2 separate regions of the Homo sapiens genome follow, and region 2 is linked to region 1. Evidence: fine-mapped expression QTL. A gene starts in region 1. The other region holds a variant in brackets. All regions are shown on one strand. Distances are from middle to middle.

Region 1 (5,381 bases):
CCCAAGCTGGAGTGCAGTGTTGCTATCTTGGCTCACTGCAACCTCCGCCTCCTGAGTTCAGGTGATTCTCCTGCCTCAGCCTCCTGAGTAGCTGGTATTACAGGCGCCCACCACCACGCCCTGCTAATTTTCATATTTTTAGTAGAGATGGGGTTTCACCATGTTGACCAGGCTGGTCTTGAACTCCTGACCTCAGGTGATCTGCCTGTCTCAGTCTCCCAAAGTGCTGGGATTACAGGCATGAGCCACAGTGCCCAGCCAAAAAGCTGTAGTTTGAATGAGTGTTATAATGTAAACAGAGATTTGCTGTTGCCAAGTTTTTAGAGAGGAATGTTCCTACGAAGCATTTAGTTCTCAGTGTGTCCCTCCCCTTGGATGTATATTAAATGATCCTGACAGCTTCAGCTGACATGAGTTTTGAGGAATTCCAAGCTAATCTATTAGGTCATATCTACAGATACTTTGGGGATCTCTTGTTAAACAGTTGGGAAGTTCTAAATATTTCCATGAAAAAACTGCCAGGAAAGAGAAATCTGCTAATAAAAAGGAGAATGACATAGTTTGAGGGTCTACTTATTGTAAAGCAAGAGAAAGAACAGTAACTGGAGTAAAATGAGCTCACAGCTGTGATGAACGGCTGTGGTGGCTTAGCTATTGAGGCCAGGCTAAGCTGTTTACCACCAGATTTTGATACAAAGGGACACTACCAGAAAGGATCCTTTGGAAATACATGGTGGAGTTGCAAGAAATAAATCTTCATTCATGAAACTGGCAACCTTTGGGGCAATGCTGAATCACACAGAGGGGGAAGGCCTGTCCTTTGCAAAAGACAAAATGGTTTTCAACCAACTGTATTAGTCTTTAGAAAGTTATGGGCATCCTTGCTTTGCAGAAGTGTCAGAGTTTCCAAAAGAGATTTCTTTCACCAGGTGGCTACCCACTAATAAAGGCCATACTGCTTCTTTCAAAGATGACAAAGTTTAAAAGGTGCATACAGAACTCTGTAAATGCAATGATGATTACTGTTTGTCAAATGTGTCGTTGCTTCCTGCATGAGTCCTGTCTCCAGTTAGCTGTGGCAGTTTCTGAGATGAGCTGGCCTCTGTGGAAGACCCACTGGTGAAAGGTGGGCTGGATACAGGACCAAAAAGGTTCAATTTGGGGGTTCAATTTGGGGACCCCAAAATGCCTGCGGTCAAAGCATGAGGACAACAAAGAGTTGCCCCTTCTCTTTTTCTTCCGTTCCTCCTCCTCCTGCTTCCTGTGTCCTTCTTGCTCCACTTCTCTCAGCTCCTTACCAGAAGCCTGACTTAGGGGTCCAGTACCTGTCTGTTTCCATGGAACAATCTCTGACAAGTTAACCAGCCAGTCAGTTGACTTCCTATTCCCTAGGCTCTCCTCTTCCCTAGGCAAGTTGCCCTTCCTCAACTCTTAACCATTACTGGAAGGTAGCTGGAGGAAATGAGAAGCTGAGGAGAAACCAGTGCCTTTTTCTGTGTTTAGGATATATTAAGCATAAGCACAATTAGTAGTTTTATCTGAGAATAAAAGTATCCTAAATAGATCCTGGCTGTGTGATTTCAGGCGCTCGAGGAGTGCCCTCCTGGAACGTCAGTTTCCTTCCTCAAAGCCCCGAGGGCAGGTTCTTAACACTGGCTGGAGGTCAAATAGGGTACTGACTATATTTCCATTTCACCAGCGAACTCCAAGGTCAAAAACAAGGCTACACCTGACAGAACATTTAAAAAAGAATTACACTGCTGTGCAAATACAAAGAAGTGTCCACTGATTTTCACCAACCCTGGGTGCACTGCCTATGAGTTAGCCCAGCTCCTCAAGGAAATTTACGATTAAAAAATAATTCATTGCCTTTCCACCTTCCAGCATAGTACTTCAAGTTGAGATGCTCACCGGGGCCTCCTAACCCCTCTCTTTGGATGCAACCCCTTTCTTCCTAGGTGGTCCATCCTACAGGACTGTTAAACCAATATTTCTTATTTGCCATTTTGAATCCTCAAGGATTCACTGAGTGCCTACTCTACACCTTCGCTTGAAAACTTTCAGAGATTTCCTGTATTCTGCTTCATGCCCAGCTCCACCTTCCCATCTAAACATTGCCCACTTACCCTAAGCCTTCCAGTCTTGCCAACCTCCAAAGCACCATGCCATGGGGCCTAAAATGCCCTCTTCTCTCCCCTCTGAGCCTGTTCAAACTCAGCTCAGTCTCTCGTCCTGGGTTTTGGTGTCTCTCCAGGGTAAAGGGGTGGGGAGGGTGCCTTCATTCTGACTGGCTCCCAGTGAGGCAGCCCCCCTTGAGGAAGAGGCTGAGATGCCAAGTGACTTGCCTGGAGTCATTTGCCAGCAGGCGATGGAATAGGGACTACGAGACACCCTGCAGCCTCTCCTGGGAGGACAACGCCCCTTCTCCCTCTCCATGCACTCTTGAGGCAGCAAAGAGGAGGCATCTGGACGCGTTTACCTCCTCCCCACCCCCACAGCTTGGCCCTCACTAAACTATCTTGTGTCCTTCCTCCTGCTATGATTGATTCGCCCAGGAAGGTGGGGCTTCATCTTTACCTTTCAAATATAATTCTTTAGTTCTCCTAATTACAAGGTGGGGGGTGGGGGGTGGGGGTGGGGTGAGGCGGGGGGTACAAAACAAAACAAAACTCCATGAAGCAACTTAGAAAGCACGACCGCAAAGGCCCTCCATCATCCCCACCCAGAGGTGAGGACAAGGTCTGGGGGTGCTGGGTGGCTTCAGACCTTCCACGGGTCCAAGCTATCTGCTTCAAGAGGGCATCGAAAGGTAACTCATAGACTTACCGCCCCCGCCCCCCGACTTTTGCAGGAGGGAGCGCTCTCCCCTCCTCTGGGAGGCTGGAGACTCGGGGACAGAAGATGCGCTGGAGGGAAGAGAACGGAGCGTCGGACACCAGAAAAACTTTGGGGGATTCGGGGTGAGAAAGAAGGCGTGAAGAGAGAAGGGAGGCTCAGCAGGGGAGGAGGGGCGGGGGCGGGGGCGGGAGCGGGAGGAGTCACTGCGCCGCGGCCGCCCCTCCCCGCCCTCCACTCGGCGGCCCCGGGTCTTCCTCCCCCTCCTCCTCCCCCTCCTCCTCCCCCTCCTCTTCCTCCGCCTCCTGGTGTGGCTGGCTGCGGCCAGAATCGGAGCCCCAACCGCGCTGCCGGTGAGTGACCAGCCCCAGGGGACAGAGACGGGAGGCCTGGGACCCCCCCTCTCCAGGGTGGGGCCTCCCGCCGTGTCTGGGAAAGTTTGCGGGCGCCCCGGGACGCGGGCATCTCCAGGGCCGCTCGGCGCCTCCCCATCTCCCCGCGCCCGCCCTGGCCGCCCCCAGGGGCGCCCTGGGGCCCGCAGAGGGATGGCCTCCCGGCAGGGACTCCTCGGCTCCCCTCTGTTCTGAGACTGCTGCTGGGACCGGGGTCCGACTCTAAAGAGAAAACTCAAACAGCAAAAAAAGGAATATCGACTCAGTTCCGAGGGCGGGGGCCGGGGCTCGTTCTCACCCGCGCGCGGCCCCTCGACCTCTCGGACCCGGGCCACCAGCTCTGCGCCCCTCACGCCTCCCTCGGGGTCTCTGTGTCTCTCTCCCGCTCCCGGACTCCCTCCTCCTTCTGACTGCTGTTATTTGGGCTGTTGTCCCTCCCCGCTCCCTGGTACCTCAGCTCGGACCTTAGCCTGTGCCTGCAGCCCGGAGTCCCCTCCTGCCCTGGAAGGCAAGGAGCCAGGCCACGGGGCCACAGCCGCGGGGGCCACCACACTGGCCCAAATATTTCCTGCAGGTATGACCATTCACTGGGTATTGGGGTTGGGTCCCTTGGACCCACAAACTGAACCTCGTGGGTACAGGGAAAAATTAAAATATATTCCTCCTTAGGATTGTACTGCTTCTGTTGGTTTGGCATCTTTTTATTTTTAACCCTTCTAACTGTGCTTTCTTCGAATAATAATGATACTTCATGTAATTAGCGTTTCTAATATCTAAAGACAGAAGAAGGAAGAAAATAAACGGAAGAGAGAGAATGCTTGCTAAAAATACTCATTTTTGACTTCAGTCCACACTCGACTGTTTTCCTGGGAGATAGAAGTTCAGTGTAGCTTGTTTTCAGACTAACCGCAAACACGATTACAGCCTCCTCCAGGCTAGAAGTTTTAATTTGCCTGACATGCAGCACACTGTTTGTTGGTATTCCCAGCCTGGCATTCCCGTCTGCATAGCTCTAGTCTCCCTCCCAACTCCCCCACCCCCACTTTCTTTCTCATAAAAGGGAGCTGTGAAAACAAGGCAATGGGAGAGGCTCAAACGAGCTGGACCACATAATAAAAACAGCCCTACTTATTTTAATCCTGAGGCTATGGACTCCCCTGGACTCTGATTGGGTGGAAGAATTGTTTAGTTCATTTGTGTGGTTTTTCTGTCAGTAGTTATTATGGTTGAATCAGTGTTTCCATGACAGTCTTGCTTCTGTGGGCACGATGGGGAGCCTGTTAATTCTCGGATGGGTCTGGACAGATCAAGTCTGGAGTCTGGAGAGATTTTTCAGGGCTTGACCTGGGCTGATATTGCAAACCTCTGCACACTCACTCAGAACCAGAGCAGCCGGGAGCAGCCTGAGCTGGGGTTTTCTTCCACATGATCTGGGAAGAAAAAGCTCTACCAAGGAGCGAACTGTGTGAGCATGGTTGCTGGGGGATGTTGAATGTTTTACGTTTTTAGGAAGAACACACTTCTCAAAACTTTAGCCATTCCTGTTTCCATACAAACAATAAATGTGGTTGTAACAAATGTAGTAGATCAGATTCTGAACAACCCCTTAAAAAACAGGTCCAAGTATTGAACCATTTGGAAATAAAGATTTTATTTTATTTGAATTCTACTGGAAATAAAAGAGTTTATGTTAAAAAGGATGTAATTCACTTCTCTCCACTGATGCAGTTTGACAGTTCCCCATTGGTATGAATCAGTTAGGTTTTATTGTGGTCTCAAAACATCATTAAGGCAGGGCACAACATCATTAAGGCAGGGCACGGGGTTCATGCCTATAATCCCAGCATTTTGGGAGGCCGGGGCGGGCAGATCACTTGAGGTCAGGAGTTCGAGACCAGCCTGGCCAACCTGATGAAACCCCGTCTCTATTAAAAATACAAAAGCTAGCTGGGCCAGGTGGCGGGAACCTGTAATTCCCAGCTACTTGGGAGGTTGAGGCGGAAGAATCGTTTGAACCTGGGAGGCGGAGGTTGCAGTGAGCCGAGATTACACCACTGCACTCCATCCTGGGCGACACAGCAAGACTCTGTCTAAATAAATAAATAAATAAATAAATAAATAAATAAATAAATAATTGATAGGCAAGTGTTGTGA
Region 2 (5,381 bases), 66 kb after region 1:
CTGCCACATATTTCCCACAGTATCTTGAAATGGTGATGCATCTTGCTGATTTTGTTTAAAAGGTTTTCTTTATTTTGAGACAGAGTCTTGCTCTGTTGCCCAGGTTGGAGTGCAGTGGCATGGTCTCGGCTCACTGCAACCTCCGCTTCCTAGGTTCAAGTAATTCTCCTGCCTCAGCCTCCCGAGTAGCTGGGATTACAGGTGCCTGCCACCACGCCTGGCTAATTTTTTGTGTTTATAGTAGAGATGGGGTTTCACCATGTTGGCCAGGCTGGTCTCGAACTCCTGACCTTGTGATCTGTCTGCCTCGGCCTCCCAAAGTGCTGGGATTAGAGGTGTGAGCCACCACACCTGGCCTAAAAGTATTTTTAACTAGAAAATATTTCAAAAATCACAAAAATTAAATAGTGCATTACAGACAGGTGGTTCAGTTTAGAATGTATGTTTCCCTTCTGTCTTTCACATGAGCAACATTTTATAATTTCTAATAGCATTTATTTTATTTTTAAAAATTTAAATTTTGCCTGTTACACAGCCCTCAGGAGGTCCTGAGAACATGTGCCTCTCAAATAGCATTTTAAAATCTATGTGTTGCTTGACTTGCAGCAAAGATTAATGCCATTCTGATTTTCTACTAATTTATTTCTATTAAAAATAGTGATATTATACATGACATCGCTAATATCAACTGGGTTTCCTATACTATAGTAATGTGAGTCAGGATTTTTCTTTATTTTGGACTATCTGTTTAGAAGTCTATGTTTGGGTCCAGTTATCTTTTTCTACTGATAAAAGTAATGATAGGTAGTGCTGTCCTGTGCAGCCCCTTCAGACCTGAAGGATGTATTTCCCCAGCAGGTGGGAATTGCCGCCGCTGAAGATAGCTGCCTTTCCTGAGGTCATGCCTCCTTCCTGGAATCTATGCAGGGGTGTATAGGCCCCTTTGCATCAACTTGGGCTAACGCTGTAGGTCAGCCCAGCTTCAGCTCTCCAGGGCATGGACAGAAGCCTTCATTCTGACTACATTGCATCCCAGCTTCTCTCTCTGCCCATTTAGCTTCATTTCCTGCCTCACTCCCCCATGAATGTTGAACTCAACGGCACTCTCCAGTAAACTTTCTGCACACAGATCTCCATCTCAGAGTTTATTTCTTGGGGAACCTGACCTATAACACTAGGTATATATATATTATGTGTGACTGAAATGTGGGTCAAGTGGCATGGAGACTGTGTTTATACTTATTTTCCTATTCACAGGGCATGCCAGGTTCATGCAATTTTAGTGGACAATTAAAAATTACTTTACAAAGTATCTCTTGCTTTAGTAGCATTTACTAGTTGATGTGCACCTGGTGGCAGTTTCAAAATGTTTTCTTCCATTTAGTAATTATCTGTTGCCAGATACTGCTCCACATGCAGGGACACAGCAGTGTGAACAGAGAGACAAAGTCCCTGTCCTCATGGAGCATAGTTTCTAGTGGGGGTAAACGAAAAATAGTTAGTAGATAAATAAATAAATAAATATGATTTCAACTAATAACAAATTCCAAGAAGGTAATAAAATAGGGTAACGGGATAGAGAGTGACTGGAGGGCTTTATCAGGGGTAGTCCTGGAGGACCTCCAGGAGGATGTGACATTTGAGCTGAGACAAAAATGATGAAGAGCAGATGGTTTACTATTAGGTTGCTGCAAAAGTAATCACGGTTTTTGCCATTAGTTTTGCAGCAACCTAATAGTTTGTAAGATGGCTTGTTTCAATTAGATAATTTTGGGTGCATTATAAATCTTAAGGGGGCCAATGGCTAGATACATGATACAGCCATATATTCAGGTAGAGGGATAATTGATCATATGTCTAGTCAGATCTGTAAATTTTTTTTCAGTATACATATTCTGTATACATTTTATAAAAACTACGTTTGACTTAGAAGACAGTTTTGGTGCTCTTGAAGACTTGACCCTGGCGGGGAGGATTTGAGGGGCTCTGTTGTTCAAAAGGAGAGCAGAGCGCCTCACTTGGAAGCTACTGTAGGAGGGTAGAGGGCTGTGTCTGTGTCCAAAGGGTGAGGTTTGTGCAGTCTGTGCCACATGTATAAAATAGGACTGAAGAGGTGTGAGTGCTGTGTTGCATTTGTTAATGCTGCCTGTGTTTTGCTTTTGCATAACAGGTTGAAATAGAAAA[G/A]AAGTGGATTAAAATCGATGGAGAAGACCCAGATAAAATTGGTGACTGCATAACTCAGTAGGAGTAGCAAGAGTTTATGATGACAGCCCACTTGTCAAATATGTAATTCACCGAAACCACACCAAGTCCTGCTACTGTAGAGTGGAAATGACTTCTGAATAGCGGTTTTAGGACAGGTCTGATGGCTGTGTTTAGAGAAGTTTAGACCTAAAACCGAACAATCTGTATTTTTTGCTTTTCATGTGTTTTTGTCCTAGGGGTTCGATCTAAAATGTTTCTATAATTCGTGTGATGTTTTGCTTCCTATTGAAACTCAAAGGCACTGTTACTCGTTGTGTGACCCCGCAGCCAGTATGATTTTTGATTACTCAGTGGCTGACTGTTTTGCTCTCTGGATTACTGAGGTGCCGTCTTCATTTCTTCCCATCTCTTCTTGCTGCTTAGTGTCTGTACTAGAGGGTAAGGGAATCAAAGGAGACATAAACCAAAATAGTTAATTTTCCCTCTTTCTTGCCTCTGAAATGTGGCTAGGTGTAGAATGATGTTGAAACCACAGGCTAAAATGTAGATCTGGAAGTATCTGTGCTTTTGAATTACTTATTTACCTGTCCTCTTACCGTTGGTAAATAATAATTGGCTATATTTGGTACCTGTCTCTCTCCTACTGTATTGTCATTTTCAAAATGTGTTTGTTTTCTGGCGCGTGCTGCAAAGAAGCTATTTCTGTTGTCCTACATATTTTAGTATAAATCACTAAGACATATTTCCTTTCACTTGGCAGGATTCCTTTCAAAATGGAATCTGAGTATTAGACACTAGTTAACATATTTGTGTATATTAAATATGAATTTTTAAAATTTATAAATACTATTTTCCAAAAGTACAGACTCTAAGGACATATTTTGATAAAGTATTATTTGTAATGAACACAAGCCTCTCTTGAGTAGAAGTCTAAATCACATTATGATTATTTTATACTAGTTCTGCTATCATGCTGTTTTATGCTAATTCTGCTTATTTTAGAGTATTTTTCATTAAAAGGTGAGCAAAGTGAAAGATACTTGGTATTTTACCCAGATTTCTAAGTGGCAACATTTTTATTCTTCAGAGTCAGGTAAATGACTATAATAGTTTGGTTTCTAATGAAAAGTCAATAGCATTAGCAGTTATAATTCTGTTTATAATTTCCTTTCAGCATTTACAGTGAAAAGTGAGAATTTTAAAATTTATGAAATCTATATTCCAGGTATTGTTTTTAGTCTGAAAAACAAACTCCCCCATGTGGTATTAATATACCTTCAATTTATGTTGAGTCTTAAACATAATTAGGAGATATTTTTCTCTATTTGCTAGATTTGTTTTGAGTCAAAACTGATTTAGTGTTCTTCCAAACAACATTTATGTGTTGGCCTACAGAGTTTATTTCATGTGTTTTTTTTAATATTTAATATTATATTACATTCATTGAAATCTGTTCAAAAACAGATTAAGACAAACATTTATGATGGTCTGTATCAATCAGCAGATTTTATTGCTTTTCATTATTTTACTGTAAAGGCAAAGAATGCAATAGGTGATGGTTGGTTGAAAGGAATTGTTATTGCTGTTTTTATTTTTTACTTTTTTTGAGACAGAGTCTCACTCTGTTGCCCAGCCTGGAGTGCAGTGTGTCATCTTGGCTCACTGCAACCTCCGCCTCCTGGGTTCAAGGGATTCTCCTGCCTCAGCCTCCAACTAGCTGGGATTACAGGCACAAGCCACCATGCCTGGCTAAAATTCTTTTGTATTTTTACTACAGACGGAGTTTCCCCATGTTGGCCGGGCTAGTCTCGAACTCCTGACCTCAGGTGATCCACCAGCCTCGGCCTCCCAAAGTTCTGGGATTAAATGCGTGAGCCACCATGCCCGGCCGCTATTGCTCTTTTTAACTTCATTTGATGCCTTGCTTATAATATCATATGCTTGAGGCTCACTGTTGATGTAGAGTAGGGCAAATCTGTGTGTGTATGTCATTAAAAAAATTCTACCATCTTTCTTTATCATCTGGTGTGGGCGCACTCTACAGTGACTTCAGTCTGCTCAGAACGAATGTGGAGGCCGGCCGAAACTGATGCTGCCCACAGTCCCAGTGAAGTTAGGTGGGTTAATTACTGCCATTCCTTTCTAAGTGTGTTTTATGGCATCCTGCCCACAAAGAACTCACAGTCTGATTAGGATGAACTTAATGACTATTTACACCTCAAAATATATTCAGCAAAGGGTTCACTTAGTTGCCCCTCATGCTTCACAGGTTGACTAGTATCTGTGGGTACCTCCCTGCCCAGGTTATTCACTCACAAGCCACCGGGCCTTCAGGACATCTCAAGATTCAGTCTTGACAATATAATAGCAAAAGCTGGACTAAAGCCCAAATGGATTGTCTGTGGCAATGCAGAAGCTGATAGCATTAACAGCAGGGTGTTACAGCATAATTGTTAATTCGCACATCTATTAGGATCCTTAAATATTCATTACTTAATGTTAAATTAACATTCTGTGTAGGGAGGGGAGGCTTATTCAATTCTTCTGACCTCAGAACTGGCAGAAGGTCAGATGTGACTACAGAACTCTAGGTGAAAAATCAGGTAGGGTTCAAATTAAGTAGAACTGCCCTTGCCGGAATAGTGATCTTCAAAAAACCCTTGCTTTTAGGGGAGGGAAGCGGGGAAGGAAAGGAATGAGGGAGGAAATATTCCTTTCTAGCATTCATTTTGCTTAGATCACTCCATTGTGAGTTTGACCATTTTGGAGTCAAATGAGCAGACTTCCAAGGAGTTGACCAGTTTGTGACTAGTCTGGTCACCTTTCCAGTTACAGGATCATATTAACTGTGTAAATGAATTCATGGGTAGATGATTTGTGCAGATCTGAATTTAAGAACATTTCCTTTTTCTGTGGGAATCACAAGAGTTTATCCACTAAAAAAAGATATGTAAAAAAGATACTTTCCAGCACATAAATAAAGGCTGGAATTTTACAACCTGATGTATATATTAGACAGTTCTAGGATGTTAGTTCCCTTCATTCCAGAGCTATGCTTGTGATACAGCCCCTTTTCTTATAAAGTCAGTTAGAAGGACTTCCTTAACAATGACTATTATAATGTCTTACTTAAAATACAGTTTTGTATTCTGTCAATGCAAATATAAGACAGGTTG

The links. PIP is the estimated chance that this variant, and not a neighbour inherited with it, causes the effect.
Region 2: its variant is fine-mapped to the expression of STON1 in esophagus muscle (GTEx, PIP above 0.99). The same link has a PIP of 0.9 or more in aorta, caudate, cerebellar hemisphere, cerebellum, esophagus mucosa and gastroesophageal junction.

The regions. Positions count from the first base shown.
Region 1 is chr2:48,527,029-48,532,409 of GRCh38, forward strand. STON1 (stonin 1) reads left to right here and starts at 3,126. Exons shown (of 4, transcript NM_006873.4): 1 at 3,126-3,188. It overlaps STON1-GTF2A1L (STON1-GTF2A1L readthrough), which reads left to right and starts at 2,897. Exons shown (of 11, transcript NM_001198593.2): 1 at 2,897-2,960. RefSeq lists an enhancer at 3,119-3,666 and a silencer at 3,258-3,457.
Region 2 is chr2:48,593,058-48,598,438 of GRCh38, forward strand. The region is part of intron 3 of STON1-GTF2A1L (STON1-GTF2A1L readthrough); the gene reads left to right. STON1 (stonin 1) reads left to right here. Exons shown (of 4, transcript NM_006873.4): 4 at 2,171-5,381. The coding sequence ends at 2,245. Among named protein-coding and RNA genes, the nearest start is that of GTF2A1L, 22 kb to the right of the region's middle. The variant G/A (reference allele first, on the strand shown) is at 2,185.